2 separate regions of the Homo sapiens genome follow, and region 1 is reported to be linked to region 2. The links are microRNA targets in miRTarBase. Many come from high-throughput screens and were not tested one by one. Region 2 holds a microRNA gene; the other region holds the end of a gene's coding sequence.

Region 1 (7,343 bases), not on the chromosome of region 2:
GCATCTTCCTCTTCTTTTTTGTTCCCATATTACAAGTTTTTATGAACCTCAGGAAATGGATTTCCTCTAAAAACGTGTTTTTTAATAGATATCCTCATTTTCTTATATCCTATCAGAATTGAAAGGAATAAAATCCATGTTTTCCCCGTGTATTAATAAATTACCCATAATCATTGTTCAACTTTTGTTTTCTACCCTTCTAGACATTTTGTGCGTATATGTACACATATGTGAGTAGTAAATGAGCACTTAATTAGAATAATAGACCTTTCTCATTAGTATGAGTTCTTTTACTTCCTGTAAACAAGCACACTAAAAACTTTAATTTTTTCAGATGGACTGAGCTGTGTCCAATGATTGAAGCCAGGAAGAATCATGGGCTGGTATTTGTAAAAGACAAGATATTTGCTGTGGGTGGTCAGAATGGTTTAGGTATGTGATGTTAATTCACTGTTCCACTTTCCTGATGAGTTTGCTGATACTTCCTTAAATTATTGAAGCATTTTTAAAAATCTAGATAGAAGCATTTACCATGTATATTATTATATCTATTTTTATAGTTTCTGGGAATTAACATACTTGATAAAATATCGCAGGATGTTAAACATTCCTGTTTATGAAATGTCGCAGTAGTCACCAGTCATTGTGACAATTTTAGATGGCTCCTATACATTCCCAGATACCTCCTGGGGAATGATGTCGCACCAGCTTAAGAACTATTGAGCAATAGAAATATTTGAACTTTAAAAAACCTTTAAAAACTTTTTAAATACAAGTTTTAAGGCTTGTATCCAGGTCCTAAATGGTAAAGTTTCCTAAATATTTTTAAACATTGCATGAAAATATCAATATTGTAATTTTTAAATGACTAAATTTGGCATTTTGTTTTCATAAATAATGTACTAAAGAATCTTAAATAATTGTCTTAAATGAAAGGGAGTCGGAACTGAATCTAGACACAAGCTTCAATTTAGTCAGTACTTTAAGCATCACTTAAGTGTACCAGTAACTTCTTTTCCTTCTTCTGTCCCTGTCCATTGCTATTTTCCATAAAGTGCTAAAAGGAGGAAAAAGAAGGACATTTGAGTAATTATAATCAAAGTTAATCAGAGGGGAAATCACCGATTGGTTTATTTTGCATTTTTCCAGAATAGATAAAACATGTTTAATTTTGTAGAAAAAAATCAATATTTAAAAAGAAATATTAAATGTCTATTGTGTTAAGAGTAAGAATTTAGGTGGTGGCTATGTGGACATTCACTGTAAAATTATTACAGTTTTTCTGTGTGTTTGACATTTTTCACAATAAAATATTGGAAAAATACAAAAAGTTATTACTTTAAGAAACCTTAGAATTGTTGATATAGTTTTTCATGTTGTTCATGTTTTATTCTTTTGAAGGTGGTCTGGACAATGTGGAATATTACGATATTAAGTTGAACGAATGGAAGATGGTCTCACCAATGCCATGGAAGGGTGTAACAGTGAAATGTGCAGCAGTTGGCTCTATAGTTTATGTCTTGGCTGGTTTTCAGGGTGTTGGTCGATTAGGACACATTCTCGAATATAATACCGAAACAGACAAATGGGTTGCCAACTCCAAAGTTCGTGCTTTTCCAGTCACAAGTTGTTTAATTTGTGTTGTCGATACTTGTGGAGCAAATGAAGAGACCCTTGAAACATGAAAAATGAGTGGACTTCAGACTCATCAGAGACTCTAAAATATAGCCACCAGTGCTTTGTTCCAGGAGTTTGGTGACAAAGTTTTGGTTTGGTGTTTTGGTAAAGAAAGTTTCAAGTGAAATGAGGTTCCTATAAAATAGATGTTTCTTTTATATGGATTTCCTTAATTCAAAGATCATATTTTAGCTGGCCACAAAACCAAGAACATATCTAGCAAGAAAACTTGAAAAAGTATAAGCATTTGTTAAAAATGTGAATTTCTTGAATGAATTTCACATTTGTAACTATGATTTTGGCAGAATAGAAGATTGGCTCATCAGTGAAGCGCAGTATCTTAGCTCTAGATTCTATTTTCATGCATCACAGAAGTGCTATACGGTTAGGTCTGTTTGTGCTCAGTCAAGAACTAAGAAATAGTATGAATTGTAAGTCAAGATGGGCAACTCAGATGGAGCAGCTTAGTCTCACAGTTTGCTTGTCTATTTATTTTATTTAGTGCCAAATGTATTCCATTTTAAAAGTAAGCCAGAGTGAGTCAAGGCATATACACACTTTCTCACAAAACTTCCTAAACAGATTTGGGGGTTTAATATGTCCAACTCCTCATGAAATATATTCAATCCACTTAAATATATTCCATCTTTTTAACATAAAATGTAAAGCTTAGCACCCATCATTAATTTATGTCTCTGTTTTATCCAGTGGTTAAAAAAGGATTCTGCCTCTTTAGTCCTCACTGTTAAATAAAACCCAATCATAGTAAGTGATTAACTAGCAAAAAGTAAAGCTATTTATAGCAAATTTCTAGATCATTAGAAAAGCACTGGTAGTTGTACAATATCAGTGTTGACTTTGAACTTCTTTAACGAGATCATGAATTCTTTTCCCTTAGCCAAAACATGAAATATTTAACCTAGTTGTCTCTAAAAGTTTTGTAATCATGAGTTAGATATATGTCATCTCCTATTCATTGCTTTTATGTGATCAATAAATCTTTTACAAACCCAACTACTCATTTCCTTCCTAGTAATACTTTGCCTTTTTCACTGTGTATGGAATGAAACATGTAAAGCTGTCACAATCAATGTTTTTATCTGATAATATTAAATATTTTTTAACTTAAAATAGGCCACTCAGTTTGTTCTTCAAGTATTTTAGGTAATGGTTGTTTTTAGAATTTGTGAACCAGTGTCTCTTAATTTTCAGTTTTCTTTATATAGAGGTTATAATAGTCTTAAACCCTAAAAATGTTTAAATCAAAAAGGAATTAGGAAAAACATAATGATAGGTATATTTCTATTTGTGTAGGGTTTTTTAATGTACAGCTTTATTGAGATATAATTCACATACCATACAATTCACCATTTAAAGTATACTATTCAGGCCAGGCACAGTGGCTCACGCCTGTAATCCCAGCACTTTGGGAGGCCAAGGTGGGTAGATCATTTGAGGTCAGCAGTTCAAGACCACCCTGGCCAACATGATGAGACCCCGTCTCTACTAAAAATACAAAAATTAGCCAGGCCTGGTGGTGTGCACTTGTAATCCCAGCTATTCAGGAGACTGAGGCAGGAGGATTGCTTGAACCTGACAGGCAGAGGTTGCAGTGAGCTGAGATCAAGCCACTGCACCCCAGCCTGGGCAACAGAGCAAGACTAAAAAAAAAAAAAAAAAAAAAAAAATGTATTATTCAGTGGTTTTTAATATATCCACAGAGTTACGCAACCATCACCACAATTTTAGAACATTTTCATCACCCCAAAAAGAAACCTTGTACTGATTAGCAATGGTTCCCTATTTCCCCCAACGCCCCTGTATTTCCTAGGGCTACCATAACAAACTACTGCAAACTTGGTGGCTTTAAAGAACAGAAATTTATTCTCTCACAATTCAGGAAGCCAGCACTCCTAAATCAAGTTGTCAGCAGGGTTAGTTCCTTCTGGAGGGTCTGCAGCAGAAACCACACATGCCTCTCCCCTAGCTTCTGGTGGTTGCCAGCAATCCTCAGCATTCTTTGGCTTGTAGCTGCAGCACTTCAGTCTCTGTCTCTGTCTTCGCATGGGCTTTTTCCCTGTGTGTCTCTGTATCTTCACATGGTGTTCTTATAAGGACAACATAGGAGCCAGACACAGTGGCTCAGGCCGGTAATTTCAACACTTTGGGAGGTGGAGGCAGTAGGATCACTTGAGGCTAGGAGTTCAAGACCCTGTCTCTACAAAAAAATAAAAAGTTAGCAGGTGTGGTATATACCTGCAGTTCTAGCTACTCAGAAGGCTGAGGTGGGAGGATCACTTGAGCCCAGGAGTTCAAGGATGTAGTGAGCTATGATTGTGCCACTGCACTCCAGCCTGGGTGACAGACTGAGACCCTGTCTCATTAAAAAAAAAAAAAAAAAAGCTGGGCGCTGTGTCTCACGCCCTTAATCCCAGCACTTTGGGAGGCCGAGGCGGGTGGATTACCTGAGGTCAGGAGTTTGAGACCAGCCTGGACAACATGCCAAAACCCCGTCTCTACTAAAAATACAAAAATTAGCCAGGTATGGTGGTGTGCACCTGTAGTCCCAGCTACTCAGGAGGCTGAGGTAGGAGAATTGCTTGAACCTGGGAGGCAGAGGTTGCAGTGAGCTGAGATTGCGCCACTTCATTCCAGCCTGGGTGACAGAGCAAGACACCTTCTCAAAGCAAAATACAAACAAAAAAAGGACAACATAGGGCCCGCAATCCAGTATGACCTTATTTTAATTACACCTGTAAAGACCCCATTTCCAAACGAGGACACATTCTGAGCTTCTGGATAGACATGAATTTGGGGAGATGCTGTTCAACACAGAAAACCTCCCAAACACCATAGCCCTAGGCAACCACTAATCTACTTTCTGTCTCTAGATTTGATTATTCTGAACATTTTTAGTAGGGTTTTCAATTTTGCACTCTATTGAAAAATGTGGCTAGTTTAATTTTTTGAGAGTGAAATATCCATTTATTATATTACAATATAGCTATATAATTTGACAATCTCCTATGTAGAATATACAGTACCTGTCTAAGATATTTTAAGTACACCAGCATTTCCTTTTAGGCTATGTCAATTGACTAGAACACACTATAGTAAATACATACACAGGTTTGATGTGGATTATAATGAAGTGGTTTTTTTCCTTAGTAATCTGTATCATAATTCCCAATTAGTGTCTTTTTCTGCCTTGGAAATTTCTACAGAATTGTCAATATCAGGATAGTGCGTAAAAGTACACTCACCATACTGACAAGCACATTTTCTATTTTGTTGCCCAAAACTCCCTGTCCTGTAAAGTGCTCTGCTTGCTTTTTAGTAGACATTTGATAAGTTAATGTTATATCCTTTGCAATGATATTATTTTGATGACAAAGTAAGTTTATGCTTTCAAAAATCACAATTCGGTCAGAAAAGTTTAGCATCTTAAAAAAATTGTTGCTATTTGAAAAAAACAAAACAAAACATATACTTGTGACTTTGTGGTCCAGCTGGCAAAAACTTGACATATCATCCCATGAAAATTTTAAGTCATGAATTATTTTGACATGACAATATTGCTAACAAAATCAAAATCAGCCGTTTAATAAACAATTATTCCACCAAGCAGTCTATATTCCTTTTGCCATATATACTGTTAACAGCAAAAATTTTGGATTTGCTACATATGCATGGGTAAAGGAGGTATTTAGACGAAATTTTGCTTTCTAAGGTTATACCAAAGACTTGAGAAAATCCAATTTACTCCCACATGGCACCAAACCAGCTCTCACTGAGAGTCATTATTTGGACCCTTAAGTCCAAATAATCTGTTCTTTTAATGAAAGGACATTTTACAGGTGGCATCATTCAGCGTTTGATAAATCCTTCCTTTAAATAGCCTCCTCCCTCTTTACAGTTGCCTCAAAAGACTTCAAAAAGCTTGAATCCACTTTTATCTTTCTCACCTTCCTCCTTCCCAAGATGATTCACACTACTTTAGAAAAAATAAAAATTTTATTTAAAAAAGTCTGTGCTGGGAAATTGTTTGAAATGTTGCCCTTATTAACTAGAAATCTTTTTACTCTCCAGAGCTTTACGCCCTCTCTCATAACAGATTTAAAATGGGGTTCAAGATCTAGTTTGAATCTTATAGAAATTCCCTCAGACTTTATCTTCTAACCTTCTTTAATTTGTTCCCACTATCTACGTTTTCCAAGAGTACTTTATTTCTATAATTGTTCTTTTATATAGTATGCCATTCTTGTTTCATGTTATCCTCTCTGATGATATTTTAGTTTCTTTAAATTTTAAAAATATTTTAGTGTTTTTGTTTCCTCTAACTTCTTTTTCTGTTTCTTTGCTTTGCTCTTTCCTGTTGGCATCTGCCTTCAAATGTCTAGTCCCTGACTGTGCATTTGGATTTAAATGAGACATCTGAAAATTGATAATTCAGGGGTACAAGGGTGAGCTTAATCAATGAACTTCATTATATGATGAGGAGATGGCCAACTATTTTTGTTGCTAGTCCATAAGAGATCCATAGGTATTTTTCTGGGATGTTTGACTCACCATTCAATAAGCATAAGCCCTCTCTGTACCTGATGTCCTAGAATCTGAAGTGTCTCTCATTCCTTTTTATTGGGGAGGAATCCTATCTCCTATCAAGTCGAGACAGTTGCCTCATCCAATTGGAAGGGGAGGCAGCAGTATTTTTCCTCTGCCATCTTGAAGAAATCAGAAGTTTCCTTCCTGTAACCCCACTCTCCTGATTTCCACCTATATATACCCATCACCAAACCGATCACTACCAAGTCCTGCAAGCCCTAGGCTCTCATTGTCTCACACACACTCCACCTAGACAGTCTCAACCGGCATTCTGGCCTTGCCCCTCTCTACCTTCACCAAGCACTGGGCTTACCCTCACTTAAGTTTCAGTCACCACTGGTATTATTTTAGGTATTTGATCCCAGCAAAGTCCTTACACATGCTGACATGTGCAGGAATGAGAAGTCAGTGGCTACAAAGCAATACTGGTTAACACAAGGTGGTAATAAAATAAATATACTAAGGTTAATGAAAGCCAAGTTTCTTGTTATCAATGGAGTTAAAAATAGAGGAAAATAAAATGAATCATGTGATTTTGGATTGAAATTGGAGATTATCAGTGTGAACTCAAGTTTTTTTCTTTTTTTCATAGTCTTTGACATAGAAGGCATAATAGTTTTAATATATAAAATATAGAAATGTTTGATGTAAATGTTCGTGTTTGTTTATACATATGTATTTCCCAGCAATGTTCATGACAGCAAAGACATCCCAGTAGCAATAAGCACATTAAAGCTCAGATCTTGGTTTCTAAGCAGCACCAAAAGGACCCCTGGAGAAATAACTGATTTCAGGACTGGAGTAGAGAATGTAAAAATGAGCCTGGAACATCTCTGCACCAGAAAGTAAAAAAGTGCTCAAGTAATCATGGGGAATTTTTTTTTCTCCTTTTTCGAATGTGTAAAGGAGCTTAAAGGGGGTCCCATTGGCCAAATTGGAGATGATCTGAGCATCAAAATAAATAATGATAGTAATGGATTATAACCCATTGAATAACATTGGAAATCATGAGTCCATACTGATATAAATAAATAAGTGAATGAGCTAAAAGTTGGATGAAC
Region 2 (7,343 bases):
CAGGTGGGTCGGCCTCATGCAGGGATGCTTTGCCCTGCCCCGGCGTGGCCCTCCAGCAGCACAGTCGGCACGTCTCAGCACCACAGTGCCCCAGTTCCACCCAGAAGTTGCATCTGCCTCTGTTCACACTCCCCTGTGTAGAGGTGGCATGTGTCTCCACCAGCAGCCCAGGAGCCCCACGTGCCCAGCTTCCCTTCAGGAATTCCATGGCTGAAGGAATGGACCCCGAGGAGCCATCCTCCACCTGGGTCAGGGGCAGAGGCTGGAGAGGCCGGAGTGGAGGGGCTGGGGTGCCAGGAAGCACAGGTCTAGTCTCAGCAAAGTAGGGGCCTGTCCTCCTGGTGTCCCCAGGGACCAAGTAGGGGCCTGTTGTAAGACCACACCTCATTGCCACCTGAGGCCTTCCATTGGTCCTCCGAGGCCCTGGCTGAAATTCGGCCTCTTCAAGGATCCCCCACTGGCCCTCCCACCACATCAGCTCCAGTGACAGCTTGAGCTCTGCCCTGCTGAGCACTCAGGAAGTGTGCTGCATCATGTCAGGGGAACCTCCAGCGAGCTCCACGTCATCCTACAGAAGGAAGAAACAGGTCCTCCGAGGGGATAAGGGACTTGCCAAGGTCACTTGCTTGTAGGCATAGAGCTGGGGTTTGAATGCACGACAGACTCTCGGTCCCCTGTGCCAGAGGCAGGGAGGGTGGAGGAAGGTGCCTCTGTCTCTTCAATCCCTCAACCCTCCCACCTTGCCCATTCTCCTGGCCAGGTCCCCAGGGCCAGCCTACAGGCTCCAGCGGGAATGAGTGGGAGCCAGCCAAGGGAGCAGTGTTGTGGTGAGTGGGGGGAGTGGGAGCAGGCTGGAGCCCCTGAAAGTGGGGCCCCTGGGAGCCAAGCCCTTTCCCCAGCCTGGCTCCTTGAGGCAGTGCAGCTCAAACCCGAGGGAGGGGGTCTGGCCCAGTGGCCCAGGGGAGGTCACTGCAACGAGAAAGCTGGTGGCAGAGGCTGGGGGCTTCCCTGGAGACCAAAGTGCCAGAGGCAGAGTTGAGGGAGGGTCTTGGGTAAGGACCAGGCCACTGCCCCTCCACCAACCATCCTCATTTCTGCTTCTCTGAGATTAGAAGGAAAAGGCTGGCTTGCTTTCAAGGGAGAAACCACGCTGAGGCCTGGGGGAAAAGGACAAGCACCCCAGGGACACAGCGATGCTTTGGAACATGTTTATTGTCATCAGTCTAAATTGTACAGACGCACACCGGACAGAATGCCTCCAAGCCGCAGAACAGGGACACAGCCGCCATCTCCCACCTGAGCCTCAGCCCCTCTCACGGGGCTGCTGAGGGCTGAGGGCCCATGCAGAGGGCACGGGGGAACGTGCTTGTAAAATGAAATGGCTACAGGGGGCTGCGGTGGTCAGCAGGCAGCAGCTGGGGAAGACACTCCAACCCCTCCGATGCCACAGACCCACTGGGCGCTCCCACGGCCCCAAGCTCTGAAGCCAGATCCTGAGAGGTGGCCACAATGGCATTTGCTGAGCAACAGAGGAGGCACTGGCCAGTGGTGGATGCTCTCCCGGGAACTCCACTCCCCCCACCTGGGTGGCCAGGGGACCTTGCTGTCCTGCTGCTGGCCCTCTTCTGGAACAGCCCTCCACAGTCACCTCCTGTCTCCTCACATCAACCCCCTATGTGTGCAGGTCGGGCTCAGAGAGGGCAGGTGACTGGCCCAAGGCCACCCTAGCAGGCCTCAAACCCAGGCCTGTCTGACCCATCTCCCAGGACTCCCCGCAGCTCTCTAAACACTGGGTGAGGAGGTGGGGACTGGAGGGGGACCCTCCACCCCAGAGGACACAGCAGGCCAGGCAGCACCAGGCAGAAGACCCCGGCCCCTGGCTGGAGGTGGGGACAGATTCGACCCTTTGCTGAGTCCCTCCCAGGGCCGCCCGGGGCTTCACACGCAGATTGACGCGCACACCTCTCCTGTGGGCGCTAGCTACCACGAGGTTCCAGGGAGGCTCCGGCGAAGGCACCTGTCATCATGGGCGCCGCTTCTCCTCTACCTGGGTGTAGTCTGCAAACTTCCTCCCCACCCCCAGTTCCTGTGCCTCGAGGTCCTTCACGAGTTTAGCGCGCACTCGTAGGAGCCGCGCAGCGCTCCCTAAGGCCTCAGTGAGTGGAGACGCTCCGGGGAGCCGGCAGCGGGAACCATCGGCCGCCCAGCAGGGTGCGGCTGCCGGCAGCCTGATGGGCAGCTCCCAGGAAGCCCAGGGCAAGGAGCGCTCCTCAACCCTACGGGCCCACCGCCAGTTCCTCGCTGGGAATTCCACGGAGTTTCGAGGTGCGGGCCCTCGGGGTGCAAGAGGGCGGCGGCGGCGTCTCCAGGCCGGCAGCGCGCCAGGAGCGTGGGCAACCCAGCGCGCCCCCACCCAGCGGTTCCCACAGCACAGCCCGGCCACGCCCGGCCACCTCCCAGCAGCACTTGGCTCTCCGGCCGAGGGTCTTCCCTGGCAGCAGGTGGAGCCAGCCAGGCCCTGGGGACTGCGGGGCGCGGCGCATGGGGCGGCCGACCTGGAGCGCGGAGCCGGTCCGTGGGCTCCCCTGGATTGGTCGCCGGCGCACCCCTGACTGTGACTCTGACTCCAGGCCGCGCGTGGGACGCTCCGTCGCTGTCGCCGCGCCCGCCGGGTCTAGTGGTCCTAAACATTTCACAATTGCGCTACAGAACTGTTGAACTGTTAAGAACCACTGGACCCAGCGCGCGAGTCCCCAACACCGTCGGTTCGCCGAGCTGCGGAGAGAGGAGCCCCCGACGCCCTTGGGACCGCCCGCGTCGCCTGCGGATCCCGGGGACCGGCCCCTGCGCCCAGATCCCCGCTGGTCGCGCACCCCCTGCCCTGCTGCAGCCACCCGGCCCCGACGCCGTACCGGACGCCTTAGACGCCCTCGCCTGGCGCTGGGGGATCCCAGCCGCCAAGCCCAGCCCCGCCGCGTCCTCGCTGGCCCCGGCGTCCCCTCGTCCCGCGGGCCCCGCGTGGCAGGGCGGCTGAGCTCCGAGCGGCGGTGGCCAGCGCGGCGGCGCCTTTTATGCGGCGCAGCCGCCCTTCCCGGCGCCGGAATGTGCCCGCGCCGCGCTGGCCCGACCGGTTTTTCCGGGCGGGGCGGCTCCCGGGCCCATAGGTCCCGCGACTGATCCTCCACGGCCCGGGGACCTGCTCCGCGCGCCCGCGCGGGGGTGGCCCTGACTCAGCGGCCGCCCCGCCCCATCCGGCGCCCCAGCCTCCAGCGCCTGGCCTGGGCGCACCTGGCCTCCCGGGTTCTGGGTCCCCGCCGGGCCACGCCCGAACCGTCTCGTCTGGGCCGGGGGTGCTCGGGCGCACGGAGGGCCCGGGGCTCCACCTTGGCCGGGTCGAGGCCCAGGGTGGCCGGAACAGGTGAGGACCAGCGCCCGACAGGAGCCCAGGGCCGCGCTAGCTCTCCGGTGGGTGTGGGGGCTGGGCTGGACACACCCACCCCAGCCCCTCTCACTTCAAAGGGAACTTCGTGGGAGGGGGAAGGGGAGGGGTAAAGAGAAAGTGAAACTGGAGGGAGGGAGGTTTCTGCTTCTCAGACCCTGAACCCCCACCCCGCAGCCCACAGGGGTAGCCCCGTACCTGCCTCCTCATTTCCCACGCGGGGGGAGGGACGCCCTACCCCCTCACGCAGCAAGGGCCTGAGCCTCGCTCCCCCCACTCACAGCCCAGCCCCGAACGTCCTGGCGCAGCTGGCCCTGCCGGTCCTACCCACTTAGTCACCTGGAGGTGTCCAGGCCTGACCAGTGGCGCCTCCCAGGGACTCTGCTTCAGCAGAACATGGCAGCTGAGGGGAGGGCTCAGGCTCTAGGAAATACCCTAGAGCCCCCTTCAGCACTTGCCCCAAGTCTGGAGCCATTAGTGTGTCTGTATGGGGTTGGGCAGCAGGGTGGTGACCATTCATTCCAGTGCAGGGCGGTGACACGCCATCCCACCACCCGCCCAGCCAGCCAGGAGCCAAGTGCTCAGGAGCCAAGGTGAGCCCCAGACCAGAACACAGCCACCAGATCTGAGGGACCCCCCAGACATTTCCACATGGGCCGCGTGTGGCTCAACCACCGCAGCCACCCTGGAAAGGGAATCAGAAAGGTTTTGTTATTTTCATTTTGCAGTTGGGGAAACTGAGGCTCAGGGAGGGACAGTGACTTCTGGGGATTGCACAGCTCTTGGTGGTAGAGAAGGGATGACAGGCCTTGCCATCGCTGCATCTGTGGGTCTCAGTGCCTGGGTGTGGAGTCCGAGGGGCTGCGGCATGGGGGTGGGGATGGAAGTGGGCATAGGGGAGCTTGAGATCAAGAACAGGAGCTTGGGAGCTCCTCCCCCAACACAACTGCATGGGCAAGAAGAACCCACCTCTCTTCTTTTCTTTTTTTTTTTCTTTTTTTTTGAGACCTAGTCTTGCTGTGTTGCCCAGGCTGGAGTGCAGTGGTGCGATCTTGGCTCGCTGCAACCTCCATCTTCCCAGTTCAAGCGATTCTCCCACCTCAGCCTCCCAAGTAGCTGGGACCACAGACACAAACCACCACACCTGGCTAATGTTTTTATTTATTTTTTAAGAGACAGAGTTTCGCCATGTTGGCTGTTCTCAAACTCCTAGGCTCAAGCTATCCACCCGCCTCGGCCTCCCAAAGTGCTGGGATTGCAGGTGTGAGCCACCAAGCCTGGCCACCACTCCTTAATTCTAAGTTCTGGTCTAGCCCAGTCCTGGGCAGACTCTTCCCGACGCACAGCCACTTGGATGGGCTCCCCTCGCCCAGGTGGCTCCCGTGTCCAGCATCCAAGGGAACTGACGAGAGAGGACGGGGAGAAGGTGACAAGTACAAGCACCTGCAGTTCCCACCAGCAGCAGGAAATATTGAGGTGTGACCAGAAGGGGAACTTCCTAGCATACACGAGAAATCTGGTTACCTCCAGCTGGGGAAGGGCGGTCCTGGAGGGCCCTCAGCTGAGGAGTCTGATTTTAGGATAGAAAATGCTGGTGAAAAAGACAGTAGTCGTGATGGAGAGGAGATGTTCCCCAGAGATAGCCCTGGGATCCAGGTGATTCGAGATGGGCTATAGGAACCAAGGCCTCCCCCAGCGTGAAATTACCAGGTGTGAGCGGCGCCACCCCACTGTGGGGAGGCGGGTCCCACGGGCACTGGGCACCTGGCTGTGCCTCATTCCTGAGTCTCCCACAGCCTCACACCACAGCAAGAGACAAGGCGGCCCTGATTCACAGCCCAGCTCTGCCCTGTGCCAACGCAGAGCCCTGGGCGCAGGACGGGGCCACTCTGTGCCTTAGCTTCCTCAGCCATGAAGTAGGATAGACGGGGACCCGGTGCCCTCCTACAGGCACAGTGGGGACGAAACACACCAACGCGGCGCAGGACACGAACGCTCCAAGCCTGTCTGTCCCGGCTGTTCCCACTGCACGCCAGAGAGCCAGAGGCCTTGGGGCCAGGTCACTGCCCAGCTCAGAGCCCAGGGAGCCCCGAGCAGTGGCCCTGCACCTCCTGCCACTTCTGGGTGATTCTAGAGGAGTCCCCTTACCCAGGGCCCCTCTGGCCTCTCCCCAAGGGGCACAAAACGGCCCCCGAGAAAGCTCCCAGACTCAAGCCTATGACTCTTCACAGCCTCCTGAGACACTGGCCCAGTCCCGGGGCTCCCTGTGGTAGGGCCCTACATCCCACGAGGGTTTGGAGGGGACTGACAATGGGGGTCTGGCTGCCCAGCCTTGTGAGGAGCTCTCCCCATCTGCCCAGCCCGTGGCCCCCAAGCCGTCTCTGCCGAACTCCATCAGTGACCCAGTTGGAGAAAGGCCAGCTTGACAAATGCTCTCTGCGGGACAAGCAGGATGAGTGGGCGTTTCTACACTACAGGACACTCACCCCCGGCATCAGTCGGTGTGTCTACACTGGCAGGTTGGCACCTGCTCTGGGAGGGTGCTGCCATGTGGGCTAACGTGAGCCACCTGCAGCTTTCACAACCCGGAGCAGCACTGAGTGGGGTGGCGTGAGCAACAGGCTCTGCCCAGCCCCTCAGGAGCTGAGGGAAGCAGGTGGGCACTGCCGTGTGCAGGAGCAACCGGGGAGACCAGGTGGGCTCAGCCCAGGGATGCCGGAGGTAGTCCCACCCCTTCTCACCTGCACCAGGCATTTGTCCAGATGCCCCACCGCCTCTCCCAAGGCCCTCCAAGGGTCTCGGCCATCCGGGGACAGCAGGGGCTCCTGGCTCTGGGGCCCGGTGCCACCCTCCCTCCACCTGCAGCCCCTCATGGGCCTCACCAGGGTGAGGAGCAAAGGCTTCCCCGGCCCTGCCACGCTCGCATGGCGTCACCTTGTTGTGCAAGGCCCAGGCACACCTGTGTCGGGGTGAGGACAGCAAGGATGCCAGCGGCAGTACCAGCCAGGCTTGGGAACCAGGCTGAGGAGCCTGGGGTATGCCCAGGTGCCAAGGGCCAGCTCTGGGGTCATGCTTTTGCCCTCCTGGGGCTCCAGTCCAGAGGCCAGCCAAACAGAGGGACAAAAGGAACCGTCACCTGGGCAGGTAGAGAGGCCTGGAGGGAGGCAGCCCCCATGCTCCTCACACCCAGCAAGAAGGGGTCAGGGGCTGGGGGCAGCAGCAGGGAGTCCCTGGCCATCCCAGGCCAGTGCATGCACACATGATGGGGGCCAGGGGTCCACACCCCCGATTTCAGCCCCAGCTGAAAGAAGGCACGAGGCTGCCCTTGGCCTTGGAGCACCACCCCCACCGGGCAGCAGCAGGGCCCGCCCCACCCGCCCACCTGCCCAGGCTGTGCAACCAGGCAGGCACAGCTCACCTCTTCCCTTACAGGGTGGCCTGGCTCACGGTGGAGGCTGCATCAGGAGCTTCAGGCAGAGCAGGGGCTGGAATGGTCCCCAGGGGCTCACCACCAGAGTGTGAAGCCCCCTTGACACTCACAGGCTTCCGCAGCCCTATGGAGCCCTGGTGTGGCCCTGGCCTGAGAGGGGGGCCGGGTGCAGCGATACTGGGGTGACAGAAAACCAGACAGCAACTGGGACGGGACTGTGAGGACTAAAGAGTTAAGCAGGGGCAGCATGCTCATCCAGGGGTTGGAGGGCTGCCTGGGGGAGGGGACTTCAAGCTCCAGAATGAAGGCGCAGGAGGTAAGGAGATGGGCAGAGGGTGTCTGGAGGAGGGACCAGCCTGGGCAAAGGCAGGGTGGCAGGAAGGGGGAGTGGCAGCTGGGAAAGGACCACTTGGCCAAGTCACGTCCATGCACCCCACCCTGCCCAGCTCACACGCACAGCTGCCCCCGGAAGGA

What was found. Region 2 holds the annotated microRNA hsa-miR-203b-3p (UUGAACUGUUAAGAACCACUGGA, at 2,715-2,737, shown strand). A microRNA usually pairs through its seed, bases 2 to 8, with sites in the 3' UTR of a target mRNA and lowers its output. Matches are read on the target gene's strand: a 7mer-m8 pairs with bases 2 to 8, a 7mer-A1 pairs with bases 2 to 7 and ends in A, and an 8mer does both.
Region 1: the mRNA of KLHL7 is a reported target of hsa-miR-203b-3p. Seed matches in the 3' UTR shown: 8mer at 3,140-3,147, 7mer-A1 at 3,879-3,885 and 7mer-A1 at 3,987-3,993.

What each region holds. Positions count from the first base shown.
Region 1 is chr7:23,172,614-23,179,956 of GRCh38, forward strand. It overlaps KLHL7 (kelch like family member 7), which reads left to right. Exons shown (of 11, transcript NM_001031710.3): 10 at 335-432; 11 at 1,402-5,301. The coding sequence ends at 1,685. Among named protein-coding and RNA genes, the nearest start is that of NUP42, 5.8 kb to the right of the region's middle.
Region 2 is chr14:104,112,822-104,120,164 of GRCh38, reverse strand. It overlaps MIR203B (microRNA 203b), which reads left to right and starts at 2,662; the gene lies at 2,662-2,747. It overlaps ASPG (asparaginase), which reads right to left. Exons shown (of 16, transcript NM_001080464.3): 16 at 4,583-7,343. MIR203A (microRNA 203a) reads right to left here and starts at 2,760; the gene lies at 2,651-2,760.